Linked DNA regions of Homo sapiens. The protein of the gene in region 1 interacts with the protein of each later gene in a pairwise test. Each region holds a gene or a part of one and is shown on either strand. Other genes may lie near its edges.

The links.
Region 2: the proteins of NMI (region 1) and LCA5L interact in binary tests that used the Homo sapiens proteins (3 or more experiments, as listed by UniProt).

Annotation. Positions count from the first base shown.
Region 1 is NC_000002.12:151,272,634-151,281,781, forward strand, and holds part of NMI (N-myc-interactor), read right to left. Parts: intron 6,358-9,148; coding exon 6,195-6,357; intron 3,232-6,194; coding exon 3,125-3,231; intron 3,038-3,124; coding exon 2,851-3,037; intron 1-2,850. UniProt on the Homo sapiens protein: Acts as a signaling pathway regulator involved in innate immune system response.
Region 2 is NC_000021.9:39,404,085-39,407,813, forward strand, and holds the end of LCA5L (lebercilin-like protein), read right to left. Parts: exon of another isoform or gene 3,709-3,729; intron 2,648-3,708; exon of another isoform or gene 2,529-2,647; coding exon 1,798-2,528; 3' UTR 1,644-1,797; downstream 1-1,643.

The DNA.
Region 1 (9,148 bases):
GCAGTATTTTTCACAATAGGCAAAAGGTGGAAGCAACCCAAGCATCCACCAACAGATGAACAGATCAACAAAATGGATATATAAAATACACACACACACAGAGAATATTATTCAGCCTTTAAAAAGGATGAAATTCTGATACATACCACAACATGGATGGACCCTGATAACATTATGCTAACCAAAATAAGACAGACAGGAAAAGGACAAATATTGTATAATTCCACTTGAATGAGGTACCTAGAATAGGCAAATTCATAGAGACAGAAAGTAGAATGATGGTTACCAGGGGCTGGAAGAAGAGGTAATGGAGAATTATTGTTAAATGGGTACAGAGTTTCAGTTTGGGGTGATTAAAAAGTTCTAGAGATGGATAGTGGTGATGGTTGTACAACATTGTGAATGTACTTAGTACCCTTGAATTGTACATTTAAAAATTGTTAAAATGGTAAATTTTATGTTATATATATTTTATCACAGTTAAAAAAAAAAAAAAGAGTACAGGTCCTGAGTCAAATAGACCAGCTTCAGTCCTAGCTCTGCTACTTATGAGCTATGTGGCCTTGGATATGTTGCTTGACTTCTTAAAGCCTCAGTTTCTTTTTCTGTAAAATAAGCATAATTACAGTACCTACCCTGTAGATTATTGTGATGAGTCAGTAAGACACAGTTTATGAAGTATCTGGCATATTTATCTCCAGAATACCTTCACATCCTTCAGTAGTTACCTGCTGGATAACCTATAACCTGCAGAAGTATTTTTCCCATCTGGCTAGATGTAACCTCTAGGAGAACATCCCCAGATGGCCCAAGGACACAGGTTCCAAAGCTAGTATTATCTCTCACAGTAGAGTTATAAATTGCATTCTAGTTTATTTTATTTTATTTATTTTATTTCGGTTTTTTTGAGACCGAGTCTCACTCTGTCACCCAGGCTGGAGTGCAGTGATGCAATCTCAGCTCCCTGCAACCTCCACCCCCCAGGTTCAAGCAATTCTCCTGCCTCAGCCTCCCAAGTAGTTGGGACTATAGGCGTGAGCCAGCACATCCGCTAATTTTTGTATTTTTGGTGGAGAAGGGGTCTCGCGATGTTGGCCAGGCTGGTCTTGAACTCCTGGCCTCAAGTGATCCACCCGCCTCCGCCTCCCAAAGTGCTGGGATTATAGGCATGAGCCACTGCGCCTGGCCAGATTTTTTAAAATCCAAGATATAGACAAACTAACACCAAACAGGCTAAATGAATATATGAATTTGGCAAATTAAAATCTGGATGCTTGACTATGGAAGTTTCCACCAAGTTATTGTTCATTTCCAAGACAACATATTACTGTAGCCCTCAAGACCCCTTCCTTTTATAGCTCTCCCTGACACATCCCACCAGGATGTCCTAAACATCATCCAAAAGCTCAGGTCAAAAATGCATATTGGGCCAGGAGCGGCGGCTCATGCTTGTAATCCCAGCACTTTGGGAAGCCAAGGCGGGCGTATCACTTGAAGTCAGGAGTTCGAGACCAACCTGACCAACATGGTGAAACCCCGTCTCTACCAAAAATACAAAAATTAGTCAGGCATGGTGGCATGCACTTGTAATTCCAGCTACTCGGGAGGCTGAGGTGGGAGAATTGCTTGAACCCGGGAAGCGGAGGTTGCAGTGAGCTGAGATAGTGCCACTGCACTCCAGCCCGGGCGACAGAGCAAGACTCTGTCTCACAAAAAAAAAAAAAAAAAAAAAAAAAAAAAGGATATTGACATGTTTTAATGTGCCCAGAGAAAAGCCTGGAAAGACACCCAAATAACCATAACTAACTAAATAGTAGGAGAAAGGGAAGTTTGAGGAAATGTCTCTTTTTGTTTTTTTTTGAGACGGAGTCTCACTCTGTCGCCCAAGCTGGAGTGCAGTGGCGTAGTCTCGGCTCACTGCAACCTCCACCTCCTGGGTTCAAGCTATTCTCCTGCCTGAGCCCCCCGAGTAGCTGGGATTACAGGCATGCGCCACCACACCTGGCTAATTTTTTTGTATTTTTAGTAGAGACGGGGTTTCACCATGTTAGTCAGGCTGGTCTCGAACTCCTCACCTCATGATCTGCCTGCCTCGGCCTCCCAAAGTGCTGGGATTACAGGCATGAGCCACCGGGCCCGGCCGAAATGTCTCATTTTTACTAAATGTTTGCTCTTCTGTATTATTTCACCTTCCTTAAAAAAGCATGTATTACTTTGTCATGAAAAAATCTAATCCATCAATTTTTTTTTTTAATTTTGTTTTTTGAGACAGGGTCTCACTCTGTCTCCCAGGCTGTAGTGCAGTGGTGCAATCACAGGTCACTGCAGCCTCAACCTCCTGGCCTCAAGTAATCCTCCCACCTCAGCCTCCTGAGTAGCTGGGACCACAGGCACGCACCACTATGCCTGGTGATCTCAGCTCACTGCAACCTCCACCTCCTGGGTTCAAGTGATTCTCCCTGCCTCAGCCTCCCAAGTAGCTGGGATTACAGGCACTTGCCACCATGCCTGGCTAATTTTTGTATTTTTAGTAGAGATGGGGTTTCGCCATGTTGGACAGGCTGGTCTTGAACTCCTGACCTCAAGTGATCCGCCTGCCTCCGCCTCCCAAAGTGCTGGGATTACAGGGGTGAGCCACTGCACCCTGCCTATTTGTAGCAATATTATCTTTCCTAGTACTGTCCCTGGAAATAATTTCCTACACTCTACTATTTTATAAGGTTTTTTAAAATCCCCAATTATCATGCTAATACATTCCAAATAAAAGAAGTAGAATAGGAATACTTTCAGAAACAACAGAACATGACTGAAATGGCAGAGTGTCTGTTAACCTTCTACACCCTTGAGTACCTCCAATCTCCACAAACGTGATGACTGCACTCCCGGACTGTCTGTCATAGTCCACGCGGTCCACCTCTCCGCCTCCATTTCGGGACTTTGAAAAGCTCAGCTCTAGTTTGTCTCTCATTTGATCTTCACGCAATGTGTCAGGAATTTCAGTAACATTGATTTTCATTTTAGAAACTTCTACATAAACCTGGAAAATGATTTGATGTTCAGAAATATGGATGAGAGAAGTGCTTGTGATGAACAGAAATCCAAAAAATTTTAATCATCCTGTTACCTGGAATCTGACTCCTGAATTTAATGGAACTGGCTTGGCCGTAACCTCCAGATTTACATCTTTTATCTGTACATGATGTTTACTCATGCTTACCACATTTTGAGCAACTGAAAAATAATTCAGGAAGGAAGTATTAATTTCCAATATTTTAAGAATTGTTATGCTTTTGGTTTAAGAACAAATTATCCTGAATATTTTTAATTTTCTTTAATATTAAAGGGTCTAATTTTAAAAATTTGGCGGGCGGTGATTCCAAGTGATAATGGTCTTGCTACCAAAGTAGAATATATAATTTGGGGGGTCAGGGGGAAGGAGGACCAGATCTCATTCTGTCACTGAAGCTGGAATGCAGTGATGTGATCATAGCTCACTGTAACCTCAAACTCCTGGGCTCAAGAGATCCTCCCACCTCAGCTTCCAGAATAGCTATGATTACAGGTGCATGCCACCACGCCTAGCTAATTTTTTTAACTTTTTGTAGAGACGAGCTCTCACTTTGTTACCCAGGCTGCTCTGGAACTCCTGGACTCAAGCAATCCTCCTGCATCGGACTCCCAGACAAAGTTCTGGTATTATCAGGATGAGCCACTGCTCTTGGTCCCAAAGTAGAATATATTAATGTCAAAGTATATCAGCAAAATCACAATGTAGAAGTTCTCAAGTTCTAGATTCTTCTCATAAGATGAATCTTTTCTCTTATCTCTTAAGAGATAAGCCTAACAATCTTCCAGAATTCATATATTACTTCAGCTCAGCCACATACCCTTCCTTCCACTATTAACAATTACCAGAGGATTCCCCTAGTACATTAATGCACAGCCAGAAAGTGTCCCATGTTCAGTAAGCTGGGAAAACTTTCATGGCTAAGTGTCATTTGTACAATTAGTCTTGATTTTACTTAACCTTATCATTTGTTACTCCTTAATATGTTACAAGCACTAGAGCAATATATATTCATTTGCTCTGTCTTCTCAAGGATTACATGTTAAAGACTACATAGGCTGGAACATCAAAGAGTGAGTCTTTTTTTTGGTCATACTTAATGACGAATTCCACTTTTGCAAAAATGCTCTTGAAATCATTCTTTAAAAAGTTGATAGTCCTGCTATATTGATCACAAAGCTGTCAAGTCTAATTTACCTGTGCAAATGGGAGAGGTTTAGTAAAATGCTAAAAATCACTAGCACTCCAAAAGGCAACTCTATGTCAATTAAAAATGTGAGTGGGCATTTATTTTTAATTGTGTGGCATGAGTTTATAATACTGCAGTTGTTGATATTTGGGGCTGCTATTCCAATGTATCATGAAAATAAGTGACATTCACTCTCTGTCTTATAAAACTTCACATGTGTTTATGACAACCAGACCAGATGGCACCACACCACAGCTGGAGGAAGAGAAAAAAGGGCCAGAAGGCAGGGCCTTGGCCATGTGGGAATTCAACTCACTGTACCAAAATATGACTCTATAACTTGGATGATGGTTTTTTGTTTTTTTGTGTTTTTGTGTTTTTTTGCTAATGACAACAGACAATAACAGAAAATATCAATGAGTAATACTCAGATGATCCTCTTTCCCTCCCACTCTTCCACAAACCCCCAACATCTGGTGATCTGATACAGCTGAGAGGGACCGCTTGTGTCTCAATTGTTGTGACTCTGACAATCAAGAGCCAACTCCTACTTAATTGTGTTTCAAACCTACTGCTGTCCCAGGAGATTGGGAGCTCAGAGCCACGTCAAGCGTAGAAGCAATGATGTAGGTGCTTTTAGAGAATTCCATTTCCAACATTCCCAGGAAATTGCTGTGCAGAAATCCTGCCTCCCAAATCCTCATTTATATCTATCTTTTAGTTATATCCCGATTACCAGTCGCCAGTATGAGTCCTGGACTCCTCTTCTACCTGTAGCAGTAGCTCCAGGGTGAAGGAAAACACACTGGCGATGCATGTCTTCTACGCACAGATACTGTCCTGCTGGAATGCCTTTCAACATTTATTTTCAGGCTACAGTGGTGCACCAGTTTTGAGGAAACATGGGTTATAGACTGTCAGAATATGAGCACTGGAAGGGCTGGGAACACCATCTGGTCCCTCACCACATAACTTAAATAAAAGAACAAAGGCCTGGGCTGGTGGCCTACCGAGAGAAATATTGGCCCAGTGGAAGTACATGGACTCTCAGGGTTTGGCTCTAAGCTCTGCAACTAACCGTATAGACTTTAAGCAAGTTAATTATCTTCTTTAAGCTTCTGTATCCTTATCTGAAAAATTTCTAACATGTAGCAAAAACTAACATCCATTAAGTTTGTATTAAGTGTCCAACATTGTGCTAAGTATTTTATCAACATTTCTCATTTAATACTCAAAGCAGCCTCATGAAGTAGGTACTACCATGAAGCACCTGTATAAAACCCTGAGGTTTATAAAGAACCTATCCCAAATCATGCTTCTAGGAAGGGACAAGGCTGGCACTCAAAGCCAGATCCTCCCCACTCAGGAACCCCCAGCTCTGAACAGGGGCCCTCACCATGGCAGACTTAGCAAACATTAGGTTTCATTCCAAATCTCTAGCTCCCAGGCTCTTCTCATTCGTTGGCTATGTTCCCTTAGGTAAATCACTTAAACATCCTCAGAATCTGTTTTCTTGGCTCTGGCATGTCTATATTTAAAGTACACAATAATAACTATCCTATCCTCCTATATTTATGGAATTGTGTGAGTATAAAATGTGATAATGTCTCTGAGAACTGTACAGCTCTACTACCTTGAAATATTACTATCATTATTTGGAGGTAGCATGTGGAGTAGAAAGAGGCTGGTATTGGACATCATCATAGCACCTGGATTAAGTCCCACAGTCATGGCTTTCTGAATACAAGATCATATTCAAGGCACTTGTCTCAGAGTCAGTTTTCTCATCTGTAAAATGGGAATAATCATACCTGCCTCAGAACGTCACTATGAGGATAAGAAATAATATAAGTGAAGTAATATTAGCGAAGTAATAGCTAAATGTCTATGAAAGTGCTTTCCAAATAACATGGTCATATTTTTTAACATTAGTCATACCTTCTTCTTTTTCAAAGGTGATAAGTGCTTGTCCTTTTTGTATCTCATAAGGAACTTTCGAGCTCACTTGAAACGAACAGGAGATATTTGACAACTGGCTGTCATTCTCAGGAGTTTCAACTGATAAGAATTTCATCTTTGTTTCAGGAATATCCTCTTTAATCTAATCCAAATGAAAATGTTTGATTAAAATCAAGACGAGAAATAACTTAAGTCCTTCCAATGATAATGTAATTTGGTCATCCAATAATTCATTCCCCACTAATTTTAGAACCTTGTAGAATATTGAGTATGGTCTTATTTAACATTTTTAGTAATTGCTTTTTCCCATGTAAGTACTCAGTAATCAAATGCTGATCTTTTAATATCATTTCACAGATGAAATTAAAAATATATAATCCTCTCACTTTTTTCTAATCAATGTTTAAACTGTCAATATTGTATGGTGTTCAGTTCTAAAGCCTACATCATTCATGTGAATAAGGACTTTTTAAACAAGTGCCAATAATAGACTATCTCAAAAGGAAATCATTAGATAGTATGTTTAATTTTGCTGCAAAGTATGAAATATAGTGTTGGGTATAATATGGTATTTCAAATCCAGATAATTTCATCCAAAAAGAAAGACTCTAGAATTAGATAATTTTATTTATTTATTTATTTATTTTGAGACAGAGTCTCACTCTGTTGCCAGGCTGGAGTACAGTGGTGTGATCTCGGCTCACTGCAACCTCCACCTCCCGGGTTCAAACAATTCTCCTGCCTCAGTCTCCCGCGTAGCTGGAACTACAGGCATGCGCTACCACACCGAGCTAATTTCTGTATTTTGTATTTTTAGCAAAGACAGGGTTTCACCACGTTGGCCAGGATGGTCTCTTGACCTCATGATCTGCCTGCCTTGGTCTCCCAAAGCGCTGGGATTACAGGCGTGAGCCACCACACCTGGCCCAGAATTAGATGATGTTAAATTTATCAAATTTAAAAATTCCACCTTCCCCAACACCTGCCCATCAACTTTTTAACCATTACCACAACTTAGGTTTATAAAAAATGAGAAGGGACAGTATCAACAGAAATTGTAAGCTGAGGCTACACAGGTGGCTCACACTCGTAATCCCAGCACTTTGGGAGGCCAAAGCAGGCAGATCACCTGAGGTCAGGAGTTTGAGACCAGCCTGGCCAACATGGTAAAACCCATCTCTACTAAAAATACAAAAATTAGCTGGGCGTGGTGGCAAACGCCTGTAATCCTGGCTATTCAGGAGGCTGAGGCAGGAGAATCGCTTGAACCAGGGAGGCGGATGTTGTAGTGAACCGAGATCGCACCATTGCATTCCAGCCTGGGCAACAAGAACAAAACTCTGTTTCAAAAAAAAAAATTGTAACCTGAAAGATAAAGGTAGGTGGTTATACTTAGCTGCTTAGAATTATTGGGATTAACAGATTCATATAACTACACATAAATGCACAAATGAGATAGATGCTTGCATTTCTATTGCCCATGGTTATTTTACATGCTGAAAATAACACAGAGATTAGAAATATTCAGTGAGTCATTCAATTTAATCTTACATTTATTCTTTGCCTTTATGCATAACTCCAGTGGAACTTCTGATTACGGTAAGGCTGACATCAAAACAGTCTACAATGTCTGAGTAAAGGCAGAGTGTTACCCAATAATGCAGAAATACCCAGTATATGCTGAGGAGCAAGGGCTTTCTGAAATTAGAGTGAGAAAGCTTGATTCTATTTCTGACCACACTGCGACAGACAGCAAATTTACTTAAGCTCTCTGATCACAGGTTTGGTCCTCTGCAAAGTGGGTCGACTAGGGCTGGCCGGTTTCTAAAGGCTCTTTGAGTTATAAGACTGCATGATTCTAGCTCCAGTCTGAGAAGTAACCAGAATCTTAACAGAGTCTTCTGCACAAAGTCACCCATCTCATAAACACAGAAAACCTCACTTCCTGATATTCAATATCCTATCTCCCACTTCAGAAACAAGAAGTGTCAATGCTTTAATTTTTTTTTTTTTAGGCGGCGCCTCGCTCTGTCGCCCAGGCTGGAGCACAGTGGTGTGATCTCAGCTCATCGCGACCTCCGCCTCCCAGGTTCAAGCAATTCTCTGCCTCAGCCTCCCAAGTAGCTGGGATACAGGCACCCGCCACCATGCCTGGCTAATTTTTCTTTTTTAGTAGAGACAGGGTTTCACCATCTTAGCCAGGCTGGTCGTGAATTCCTGACCCCATGATCCACCCGCCTCAGCCTCCCAAAGTGCTGGGATTACAGGCATGAGCCACCGCGCCCAGCCTCAATGCTTTAATTTTTTAACATCTGAGTTGTTAAGAAAAAAAATGGGTGAAAATTATGTACAATTAAAATACAGGAAAATTTAGGAGAGAATTTAAATGGTGAGGATTAATATATGTCCAATTTTTTGAACCGTGAAACTCATCTAAATTACCAAAGCACCTTGGATGAGAAGAATTATAAAAGAACTCAGTGAGAAAAGCCAGAATTTGATCCAACAGTAATTTGCTAATGACCATCTTTTTTTGGTAAATTTTATTAATTTTTTGTTTTTGTAAATTTATTAAAGTGTACGTAAATAATAGAAAAATGCATGTATCATTAAGTACAGCAAGATGAAATTTTACAAAGCTAACACACGTGATTGGCACGCAGATGATAGGCAGGACATGACAACACCCCAGAAACCCCCTTGGGTTCCCTTCTGGGTCTTACCTGCTTCCAAAATAACCACTGTTTTAACTTCAAACATCCTGCTTTTGCTTAATTTAAAGGGAAGCATATGGTATGCCCTCTTCTGTCTTTTTTGTGTTAACATTGTGTTTATGAAACTCATTTGTGTTGCTGCATGTCATTATGATCTGTTCATTCTCATTGCTGTGTAGTTTTCTATCATATGACTATACCCCAATTCACTAATTCGTT
Region 2 (3,729 bases), on another chromosome or scaffold:
CATAAACATCATTGGAAAGGAAATAGTATGGTCTAGATTATAAACAAGTTGCCCTTATAACTAAATGAAGTAAGCTAAATAAAGTGAGGCTGGGAGTATAGCCTCCTTTTTACAGTCCTAATTTAAAATATCCTAAGTTTAGTAAATATATTAGTTAGGACTGAGCAGCTAGCTCGAATAAACACCAGCAGGGCCATGGTACTGTTTTATGGTTTTTAGAACAAGGTTAACAGAAAAATGGTCAACATACAGGTATGCAACAAATCTCAATAAATGATACTGGATCTCAGGTGTACACAAGGAAAGCATCACCCACAAAGGCAGGACATTGGATACCCAGGTTAGCTGAATAAGAGAAACTCAAAAATGATTTTCATGGCTGGGCACGGTGGCTCACGCCTGTCATTCCCAGCACTTTGGGAGGCTGAGGTGGGCAGATCACCTGAGGTCAGGAGTTCAAGACCAGCCTGGCTAACATGGCAAAACCATTTTTAGTCTCTAATAAAAATAGAAAAATTAGCTGGGTGTGGTGGTGCATGCCTGTAATCCCAGCTACTCTGTAGGCTGAGACACGAGAATCGCTTGAACCCCGGCAGGGCGGAGGTTGCAGTGAGCCAAGATTGTTATCACTGCACTCCAGCCTGGGTGACACACTGAGACACTGTCAAAAAAAAAAAAAAAAAAAAAGATTTTCATGAAACTAAGCTTGGTAATCACTATATATATACACACATACATACATATATGTATTTTTTTTTTTTTTTGAGATGGAGTCTCGCTCTGTCACCCAGGCTAGGGTGCAGTGGTGTTATTTTGGTTCACTGCAGCCTCTGCCTCCTGGGGTTCCAGCGATTCTCCTGCCTCAGCCTCCTGGGTAGCTGCCATTACAGGCATGTGCCACCACACCCAGCTGATTTTTTGTATTTTTAGTAGAGACAGGGTTTCACCATGTTGGCCAGGCTGGTCTCAAACTCCTAACCTCAGGTGATCCACCTACCTCGGTCTCCCAAAGTGTTGGGATTACTGGCGTGAGCCATGGCACCCAGCCTATTTTTTTTTTTTAGTAAAAAGAGTCTTTTGATCATATTGTTCCCTTTCAAAGCTGCTGCCACATTTTGTTTTTATTTTTTGAGACACGGTCTCACTCCGATTGCCCAAGCTAGAGTGCAGTGGCACGATCATGCTCACTGAAGCCTCGACCTGGGCACAAGTGATTCTTTGACCTCAGCCTCCCAAGTAGCTGGGACTACAGGCACACACCACCACACCTGGCTAATTCTTATAATTTTTGTAGAGACGGGGTTGTACCATGTTGGCCAGGCTGGTCTTAAACTCCTGGACTCAAGTGATCCTCCCACCTTGGCCTCCTAAAATGCTGGGATTACAGGCAAGAACCACTGCATCTGGCCTGCTTCCATGTTTTTAAGTTACAATTCAACTCTATTGCTGATAAATTTTGTTGTGTAGGAGATGCATGTCTTGGGTTGACTAACTTAAGAGTTACTAGCTATGGAGTCCCACAGAATACTAAAACCATATAGTAAACCAGTCTTCCAGAAGATAATGGATGTTTCAGTTGTAAAGATGTAAATTTGTATTTGAAGTGTTATCATTGGCTAATATAAAATAGATTTTTTACTAGATTAGCAATCAAACAAAAATTTAATTATCGAAAGTCAATTAAGTACTAAAACACACACATACATACACTCCCTCTCTCACACATTTCAAAAATAAGATGCAAGGCACATAAGCAGCATTATATCAAACCAGAATGCATTAGGATATTGATTATATTTAAATAATTATTTTTCTTTTTCCTTCTGTAGGTGACGATGGCTTAATAGAATTTACCACAGTTACTTTAGAGTCTCCGAAAGCATGGCTGGTGGAGGCCTGACTGGGAGGCAGGGGATGCGACTCCTTACTTTGCAAAGGCTCCTCTGAGCCTTTTGCAACACCAGGACTTGATTGGTCAGTTTTCAAGACATAGCCTGATCCAAAGAGTTCTTCCATGAGACTGCTTTTCTTATCTCTGAAAGTTGTATCCTTCACTTTTATTCTGGAAGACTTACCAAATGAGGGCTCATACCCACTGTCAGAATGCTCTAGCTCCATTTCCTCTCTGTTACTGAGATGCTTGCCTGTACTATGACTGTACCTCATGTTGCCGGCATTGGCTGGCCCCCCTGAAGCAGGAAGCCCATGATGCAGGTTTTCAGTTGCTTCTGTGAATGAGTAATGTCTTCTTTGTCTGAGGGGGCCTTTCGTGTAGGGAGCAGTGCCTTTGCCAAGTGTGTCATCCACACCATTTCTCTGCATGCTTCTTTTAAACTTTTCTCTTACTAGAACATCTTCTTGATTGCTTTCTCTTTCAGGATGAATAACTTCAATTATTTTTGGTGGTAGTTCTTGCTCTTCTTTCACAAAAATGTTTTTCTTTTCTTGGTCTTCTTTTTTGTCTTTTTGTCTTCCAGTATTCTCCAGCAGTATTTGGACTTCCAAATGTTTCTCTTCCCCTGATAAATCTATATTAGAAAAATAGGCAATTTAGTGCTGTTTAAAATGAATGGATCTCTATTTCAAGATGGCATGTCTAGTACACTTACGTGCACCGCCTCACAAGCACACTGAAATGACAGAAAAGGTAAGAAAATAGATGCATAGACAAAAGATTACAGAGAAAGGTGCTATTAACAAATGTGTTATGTTACAGTTTCTTGGAACTTCCCAAGCAGATGGGAATTATGAAACCAAAAGAAAAATGACATTCATAGAAGAAGAAATAAAATTTGCCAATAAGGTTATTAATAGATGTTTAACATCACTAACTGGACATACTGCCAGTTGAAACAATGATGGCTGGGTGCAGTGGCTCACACCTGTAATTCCGGCACTTTGGGAGGCTGAGGCAGGAGGACTGTTTGAGCCCAAGAGTCTGAGACCAGCCTGGGCAACATAGCGAAACCCTGTCTCTACAAAAAATACAAAAATTAGCTGGGTGTGGTGGTGTCTGCCTGTAGTCTTGGCTACTCAGGAGGCTAAGGTGGGAGGATCACTTGAGCCCAGGAGGACAAGACTGCAGTGAGCCGTGACTGTGCCACTGCATACCAGCTTGGGCAACAGAGCAGAGCTGTTTCAAAACAAAACAAAACAAAACAGAACAGAAGAACAGAACAGAACAGAACAGGACACAATGAGAACATTTTTCATCCATCCAATTGGCAAATAATTTCTAGAGCTGGTGAGAAGATGGGGAAATTGGAATGTTTGGTCCCCGCTGGTGGGTGTGTTGTTGGTACAGCATTTTTGGATGGCAATTTGGCAGTATCAAGATTTTAGGTGAATATACTCTTAGACCTAACAACTTCTTCTTAGAACGAACCTACAAAAAATAGACAAGGATAAGTGCAACGATGTTCACTGTGGCGTGGGTTAGTAACAATAAAACCTCCTAAACATCTGCCAAAGGAATAATGGTTAAATAAGGTATGGCACGTGCAGTCTGTGGAATTCCAGGCAGTTATTATAGACAATGAGCTGGATCCATGTGAACTGATGGGGAAGGATGTTCCCACTACAGAATATAAGCACATGAGGGCAGGGTTTTGCATTTGCTTCCTCCTGTCTCCCTAATGCCTAGAACAGTGTCAGACACATAGTGCATGCTCAGAAAGTATTTGTCAAATGAATGGATACACTTTCTAGGACACTATGAATTAGGACAAT